2 linked regions of the Homo sapiens genome follow. The protein of the gene in region 1 purifies or fractionates together with the protein of each later gene. This does not show direct contact. Each region holds a gene or a part of one and is shown in the gene's direction. Other genes may lie near its edges. The genes, in order: DUXB and YTHDF3.

What was found.
Region 2: the proteins of DUXB (region 1) and YTHDF3 purify together in Homo sapiens (affinity purification with mass spectrometry, with the first as the bait; one large-scale study listed by BioGRID). This does not show direct contact.

Annotation. Positions count from the first base shown.
Region 1 is NC_000016.10:75,698,614-75,703,146, reverse strand, and holds the start of DUXB (double homeobox protein B), read left to right. Parts: upstream 1-1,685; 5' UTR 1,686-1,728; coding exon 1,729-1,753; intron 1,754-2,977; coding exon 2,978-3,132; intron 3,133-4,533.
Region 2 is NC_000008.11:63,185,312-63,189,134, forward strand, and holds part of YTHDF3 (YTH domain-containing family protein 3), read left to right. Parts: intron 1-835; coding exon 836-2,434; intron 2,435-3,823. UniProt on the Homo sapiens protein: Specifically recognizes and binds N6-methyladenosine (m6A)-containing RNAs, and regulates their stability. M6A is a modification present at internal sites of mRNAs and some non-coding RNAs and plays a role in mRNA stability and processing.

The DNA of each region.
Region 1 (4,533 bases):
GATCAATGTACTTTGTAATCTCCCCCATCCTTAAGAAGGTTCTTTGTAATTCTCCCCACCCTTGAGAATGTACTTTGTGAGATCCACCCCCTGCCCACAAAACATTTCTCCTAATCCACCGCCTATCCCAAAACCTATAAGAACTAACGATAATCCCACCACCCTTTGCTCACTCTCTTTTCAGACTCAGCCCACCTGCACCCAGGTGAAATAAACAGCCTTGTTGCTCACACAAAGCCTGCTTGGTGGTCTCTTCACACGGATGCGCATGACAGTAATTATGATTTTGGGCACATCAACATCTGTATCATTCAGGGTTCCATCAGAGAAACAATCAGTAGTGTTCCGAGGTCAGCTATTAACTAGTGAACTATATATAATATATGTGTGTATGCCTGTGTGTGTTTATATTATAAATATATAGGTATCTATACACATACACACTTGTACATATATATATATAAAGACATATATATGCCTTAGTCCATTCAGGCTGCTATAACAAAATACCATAGACTGGCTAGCTTATCAACAACAGAAATTTATTTCTCATAGTTCTGGAGACTGGGAAGTACAATCAGGTTAGGTGTCTGGTGAGGACCCACTTCCTAGTAGACAGTCATTTTCTCACTCTAACCTCACGTGGCAGAAGGATCACAGGGATCTCCCTCTCTCCCTCCCTGTCTGCTCTCTTTGATAAAGACACTAATCCCCTTCATGAGGACTCCACCCTCATGACTTAGTCACTATCCAAAGGCCCCACCTCCTAATACCATTACCTTGGTGGTGAAGATTTCGACATATGAATTTTGAGGCTACATAAACATTCAGGCCACAGCAATACAAAACTCACTTCTATAATTGTAGGGTCTGGGTAGGCAGGAATAAATTCTGTAGGGTAGGCCCTTCAGAAAAGCAGGTGGAAACTCCTAAAACAGCAGATGAAGCAGCTGAGCACTTACGGAATTTTTTTAAATTTTTACATAAATAAGGTCTTCCTGCGTTTCCCAGGCTGAAATTTAACTCCTGGGCTCAAGCGATCCTGCTGCCTCAGCCTCCCAAAGTGCTGGGATTCCAGGCTTGAGTCACCACCCCCAGCTAGATGTGATTTCCACCACCCCCACCCTCCCAAGATGTGATTTCCACCACCCCCACCCTCCAGGGCAACCTCAGCTTTGCTCTTTAACTGATTGACCTTTAACTGATAGAAAATAACCCACCCAGATTATCCAGGATAATCTCATTTACTGAAAGCCAACTGATTATATAACCCAATCACGTCTGCAAAATACCTTCATCGCAATGCTTAGATTCGTGTTTTATTGAAAAAATAGGGAGCGTAGAGCAGCCAAGTTGACACACAGATAGCACCATCGCAATGCTGAAAAGACATGAGTTTCAGAAGAGCCGAGGAAAACAAAAAATGCAAAGTAAGGTAAGGACATTCTTATAATGTAGAAACTAATATGGCCAAACTGAAATAATTAAACAAGAGTCATATTTAGAAAGGTATTATGAAGAAGACAAAATCACCACGTAGAATCTGTACTTCCACTTAATCTAATTACTTCAAGTTTCTTTCTACAGGTGTTAAATATTTAATGAGGGGATTAAATTGAAAGCTATTTAAGAAAGGGGCGGGTCACCTTGACCCTATATAAAGCCTGTGTCTTTGAGAGCTGCTCAGTTACTCGCTGATCTCCGTGGAGTCCAGGTCTTCTGCCCAAGATGAATTTGGAGGGCACTTCAGGTGGTAAGTTCCCATCAGCCTTTTCTCTGTTCTTTGGGATTGCTGCATGTCTTGCTTATTTTTCAGAGTTTGTCAAAGTTTATAGCACAAACATGATTAGAGGTACAGACTGGTAGAGCAGCAGCTGTTTTTCGCTGATAAATTGTGTCAGAACAGCCATGGGTGCTTTGAAGTTGGACTCTTGAATTTGAAATGTAAGATGGCAGCCATGAGTCCCATACAAGGGTCATCTACCTAAAGTTTTAAAGTTGACAGTTTATGTGGAGGGGAGAATGTATGAACTGTCTAATGCAGCCTACTGAATTTTACTGAGATATATTCTTTGTCATTAGAAGTACCAGTTCCTGTGTGTCTTATTTCACCTGTTCAATTGTTCCATGAGTTTCACTTTTTTCATTGATTTTTGTTAATTTTCCTCCTCCCTACTGCTTCCTCTTTTGGTAATTTTGTACATTTTCCGTAAGTTCTCTCTTTGGAAACTTAGGTCATTGATTATCGTTTTCTAATATATATATTTAAATGTTTATATACCCAATTTAGCATGACTTTAGCTCTATGCCTAAAGTAAAAATACAGAGTAATAATTAACAGTACGGGTGCGGTGGCTCACTCCTGTAATCCCAGCACTTTGGGAGGCCGAGGTGGGCAGATCACGAGGTCAGGAGATCGAGACCATCCTGGCTAACACGGTGAAACCCTGTCTCTACTAAAAAATACAAAAAATTAGCCAGGTGTGGTGGCACCCCAGCTACTTAGGAGGCTGACCGGGGAGAATGGCGTGAACCCGGGAGGCAGAGCTTGCAGTGAGCTGACATGGTACCACTGCACTCCAGCCTAGGCAACAGATCGAGACTCCATCTCAAAAAATAGTAACAATAATAATAATAATAATAATTAACAAAATGGGGAGGCCAGGACAGGAGGATCAATTGAACCCAGGAGTTCGAGGCCAGCCTGGGCAAGATAATGAGACCTCATCTCTACAAAGAAAAAAAAATAGCCAGGCACAGTGGTGCATACCTGTAGTCCCAGCTATTCCGGAGGCTGAGGCTTAAGAATCGCTTGAACCCAGGAGCGGAGGTCGCATTGACCCGAAACTGCATCACTGCACTCCAATCTGGGCGACAGAGTGAGACTCTGTCTCAAAATAAATTAATTTAATCAAAGTACAGATTTAAACCCATAAATATATTATTCACACTATTCTCCCCCTTTTCTGTTCATCAGGCATACTTCAAAAAGAATTCTGGAGAAACAGAATTCAGTATAACCAGAGTCAAAAGGATATCCTCCAATCATGGTTTCAACATGACCCTTTCCCTGATAAAGCTGCCAGAGAACAACTGGCCAAAGAAATTGGGGTTCCAGAATCTAATATTCAGGTAGGCATTAGATTTCTACTTCATTACCTGTCAGAACCATGGTAAAGAGAAAGACTAGGCCCAGCGCTTTTGCCAATTCTCTTATATCAGGTTATATCAGGTATTTTGCTAAGAAACGTTTTCCTGTTCTACAAAATTAGAAAACAAATAAAAAGGCTGGGCGCGGTGGCTCACGCCTGTAATCCCAGCACTTTGGGAGGCCAAGGCAGGCGGATGACGAGGTCAGGAGATGGAGACCATCCTGGCTAACATGGTGAAACCCTCTCTCTACTAAAAATACAAAAAAAAATTAGCCGGGCGTGGTGGCAGTCGCCTGTAGTCCCAGCTACTCTGGAGGCTGAGGCAGGAGAATGGCGTGAACCCGGGAGGGGAGCTTGCAGTGAGCAGAGATCACACCACTGCATTCCAGGATGGAAGACAAAGCGAGACTCCGTCTCAAAAAAAAAAAAAAGAAAAGAAAAGAAAACAAATAAAAACAAGGATGCGGTTTATGTATTTTACCAAAGGTGGAAATATCATTTGTATTCACTAATGGGGAAGGAGAATATACTGGCTCAGTCTCTCCCAATAGGTAATTAAGTCATATTTTGAGATTTAGAGAATATAGGAAATGAAATCACCATGATAATTATGTCCTATATTTTAGTATTAGAATATTCAGATCGATTATTAATATGTAATTACAAGGAAACTGGGGTAAGAATGCATGTGCATTCCGAAGTCTCAGGCTATTTCTTAATTTAATGTCTCAAATGTGATTCATACACATAGCGTTTGAAATAAAATTCCATACTGAATTATTTTAAATAGAATAACTGACATAAAATGAAACTTAAGTTAAATCTCTCCAGTTATCAGAAAGATACCTGGACTGGGTAGGGTGACCCACACCTGTAATCCCAACATTTTCAGAGGCTGAGAGTGGAAGATCACTTGAGGCCAGGAGTTCAAGATCAGCCTGGACAACACAGTAAAACCCCATCTCTCCAAAAACATGTATTTTAATTTGCTGGGTTTGTTGTTCCACACCTGCAGTCCCAGCTACTCAGGGGCTTAGGTGGAAGGATCATTTGAGCCCAGGAGGTCAAGGCTGCAGTAAGCCGTGATTGCACCACTGCACTTCAGCCTGGCAGACAGAGCGAGACCATGTCTACCAAAAAAAAGAAGTTATCTGTGATTCCTTCTCATGGTGGTGTGCACCTGTACTCCCAGCTACTTAGGAGGTTGAGGCAGGAGAATCGTTTGAGCCCAGGCATTCTGTGCTATACTGTGCCTGTGTTGTGTGGATTGAGTGCCTGCAGTAAGTTTGGCATCAATACGGTGACATCCCAAGAGCTGGGGACCGCCAGGGTGCCTAAGGAGGAGTGAGCCAGCTCAGGTCAGAAACAAAGCAGATCAAAA
Region 2 (3,823 bases), on another chromosome or scaffold:
TTTTGGCAGTTCACTAAATGATAAGTATAGTGAAGGTTGATTTAATTGCAGTAATTCTGGAAAAAATTTACATGAACTCACTATTACTAAATTAAAAAAAACCCAAACCTGTTCTGTAATAGGTTTATTGTGTAAAATTTGGGGAAGAGGAGAGTATAAAGAAAAGTCATGTCTGTTATTCCACCAATAAGAAACTATGATAAGGAATTTGTTTTATGTCTTTTTTTGAAATGAACAAGGCAAAGCAAAACAAAAAGAAATTTGCATCATGCTATAAACGTAATCTTGAATCTTCTCAAGACTGTGAGCATTTCTCCATTTTTTCCTTAATGAAAGTACAAAATCTAATGGTTGAACTGGATTCCATCATATAGATAAGCTGTAATTCCTCTATTATTCGGCAGAGTTGTCTAGTTTATTTAATCCTTGTGTGTAAGTGATTGCATACATCAATTGATTAAAGTACAGCTGGCTGTAAATGGTAATTTTGTGTCCACAAAGTTTATATATTAGCCTTTTGTAGAAATTATGATATTTTTAAATTGTGACAGAGGGCCTGGCTCTTCAAACAAAAATAATACTCATTATACCCCCACTCTCATCCCTGAAAAAAGCCATATAGGTTAGTTTGTAAGAAATATTTTAAGATGTGACTACTCATCAGCAAATTTTTCTGTTGATAAAACTGGATTTGAAATTTTAATTTTGTTTATCTAGAATAGGTACATCTTTTATTTTCATTTACTTAAAACTTCTTGATTTTAATCTTTCAGATTTCTTTTTTTGCTCTTTTAAGAGGACATTTCGCTACTGATTGTGATATTTTGTTTTGCAGAGTAACAGCTATCCACCAATGTCAGATCCATACATGCCTAGTTACTATGCTCCATCCATTGGATTTCCATATTCTCTTGGGGAAGCAGCGTGGTCCACAGCTGGAGACCAGCCTATGCCATATCTGACAACCTATGGACAAATGAGTAATGGAGAACATCACTATATACCAGATGGTGTATTTAGTCAACCTGGGGCATTAGGAAATACCCCTCCATTTCTTGGTCAACATGGATTTAACTTTTTTCCTGGTAATGCTGATTTCTCTACATGGGGGACAAGTGGATCTCAGGGACAATCAACACAAAGTTCTGCTTATAGTAGCAGTTATGGCTATCCACCTAGTTCTCTTGGGAGAGCTATTACTGATGGACAGGCTGGATTTGGCAATGATACTTTGAGTAAGGTGCCTGGCATTAGCAGTATTGAGCAAGGCATGACTGGACTGAAAATTGGTGGTGACCTGACAGCTGCAGTGACAAAAACTGTAGGTACAGCTTTGAGCAGCAGTGGTATGACTAGCATTGCAACCAATAGTGTGCCCCCAGTTAGCAGTGCAGCACCTAAACCAACCTCCTGGGCTGCCATTGCCAGAAAGCCTGCCAAACCTCAACCGAAACTTAAACCCAAGGGCAATGTGGGAATTGGGGGTTCTGCTGTACCACCACCTCCTATAAAACACAACATGAATATTGGAACTTGGGATGAAAAAGGGTCAGTGGTAAAGGCTCCACCAACCCAACCAGTTCTGCCTCCTCAAACTATAATCCAGCAGCCTCAGCCATTAATTCAACCACCACCATTGGTGCAAAGCCAACTGCCTCAACAGCAGCCTCAACCACCACAACCACAGCAGCAACAAGGACCTCAGCCACAGGCCCAGCCTCACCAAGTGCAGCCTCAACAGCAGCAGCTGCAGAATCGCTGGGTAGCTCCTCGTAACAGGGGAGCAGGCTTCAACCAGAACAATGGAGCGGGCAGTGAAAACTTTGGTTTAGGTGTTGTACCTGTCAGTGCTTCACCTTCTAGTGTAGAAGTGCATCCCGTGCTGGAAAAGCTAAAGGCCATAAACAACTATAATCCCAAAGACTTTGATTGGAATCTGAAGAATGGACGTGTGTTTATAATTAAAAGCTACTCTGAGGATGACATACATCGTTCCATTAAATACTCTATCTGGTGTAGTACTGAGCATGGTAATAAGCGTTTGGATGCAGCTTACCGTTCCCTGAATGGGAAAGGCCCACTCTATTTACTCTTCAGTGTGAATGGCAGTGGACATTTTTGTGGAGTGGCTGAAATGAAGTCTGTTGTGGACTATAATGCGTATGCTGGTGTCTGGTCTCAGGATAAGTGGAAGGGCAAATTTGAAGTTAAATGGATCTTTGTCAAAGATGTTCCCAATAACCAATTACGGCATATTCGCTTAGAAAATAATGACAACAAACCGGTTACCAATTCAAGGGACACTCAAGAGGTACCCCTAGAAAAAGCTAAGCAAGTGCTTAAAATAATTGCTACTTTCAAGCATACCACCTCAATCTTTGATGACTTTGCACATTATGAAAAGCGTCAAGAAGAGGAGGAAGCCATGCGTAGGGTAAGAATATAGTAATTTTTTGTTTGGGGTCTTTGTATTGCTGGTGGGGTGCATGGATGGGTATATTCTGAGTTTAAGAACTTTCTGTGAAGGAAACCAACTACTTAAGAAACAACTCTACAAACACCCTTGAAGGTATCTATGTGTGTCCTATATGAACCATTTCTTCTTTCCTTTCCCAGGGTAACTCACGCTGAGTTAGCCTCTTGCTCATTCTTCATACTCCCTAGATGATAAAGGCCATTGGGCCTCAGTGTTTATCATCAAAGCTGAATGAATTTTGGCATTTGTAACTAAACAGACTTCATGAACTAACCAGGGGCTCTAATCATTAATATTATTAATCATACTAACATAGGAGAAAATATATTTAGAGTTTGAAACAACTTTTTTTTTGAGATGACATCTTGCTGTGTTGCCCAGGCTGGAGTGCAGTGGCTATTCACAGGTGCAGTTATGGCGTATAGCCTCAAGTTCCTGGCCCCAAGCAATCCTCCTGCCTTAGACTCCCAAGTAGCTGGGACTACAGACCTGTACCACTGAACCTGGCACTTAAAACAAGTTTTTATTTATTTATATTTTATATATTATTTAATTTTTTTTCAGACAGGGTCTCTCTTGTCCCGGCAGGAGTGTACTGGCGTGAACATGGCTCACTGCAGCCTTGATCTGCTGGGCTCAAGTGATCCTCCTACCTCAGCTTCCCGAGTAGCTGGGACTACGGTCACACACCACCACGCCTGGCTAATTTTTGTATTTATTGTAGATAGAGGGTTTCACCATGTTGCCCGGGCTGGTCTCCTGAGCTCAAAGGATCTGCCCCTACCCCTCTGCCTCCCAAAATGTTGGGATTACAGTCCTGAGTCACTGCACCCAGCTGAAACAACTTTTAAATAAATGTTTTACTCTAATTTTGTGTTTATAAGAAATTACATATATATATATATATATATATATTTTTTTTTTTTTTTTTTTTTTTCTTTTGTGAGATGGAGTCGCTCTCTGTCGCCCAGGCTGGAGTGCAATGGAGTGGTCTTGGCTCACTGCAACGTCCGCCTCCCGGATTCAAGTGATTCTCTTGCCTCAGCCTCCCGAGTAGCTGGGATTACAGGCACACGCCACCATGCCTGCCAAATTTTTGTATTTTTAATAGAGACGAGTTTCACCATGTTGGCCAGGCTGGTCTTGAACTGCTGACCTCGTGATCCGTGCGCCTCGGCCTCCCAAAGTGCTGGGATTACAGGCATGAGCCACTGTGCCTGGCAAAATATGTTTTTAAAACATAAAACTCTTGAAGTATTTTTATAATTTTTATACTTAAAGCACTTGTACAAAATAGAGGCTTTGCAGAATTTGATTCCTAATTCTGTTATATACCCTCTGTAAGAT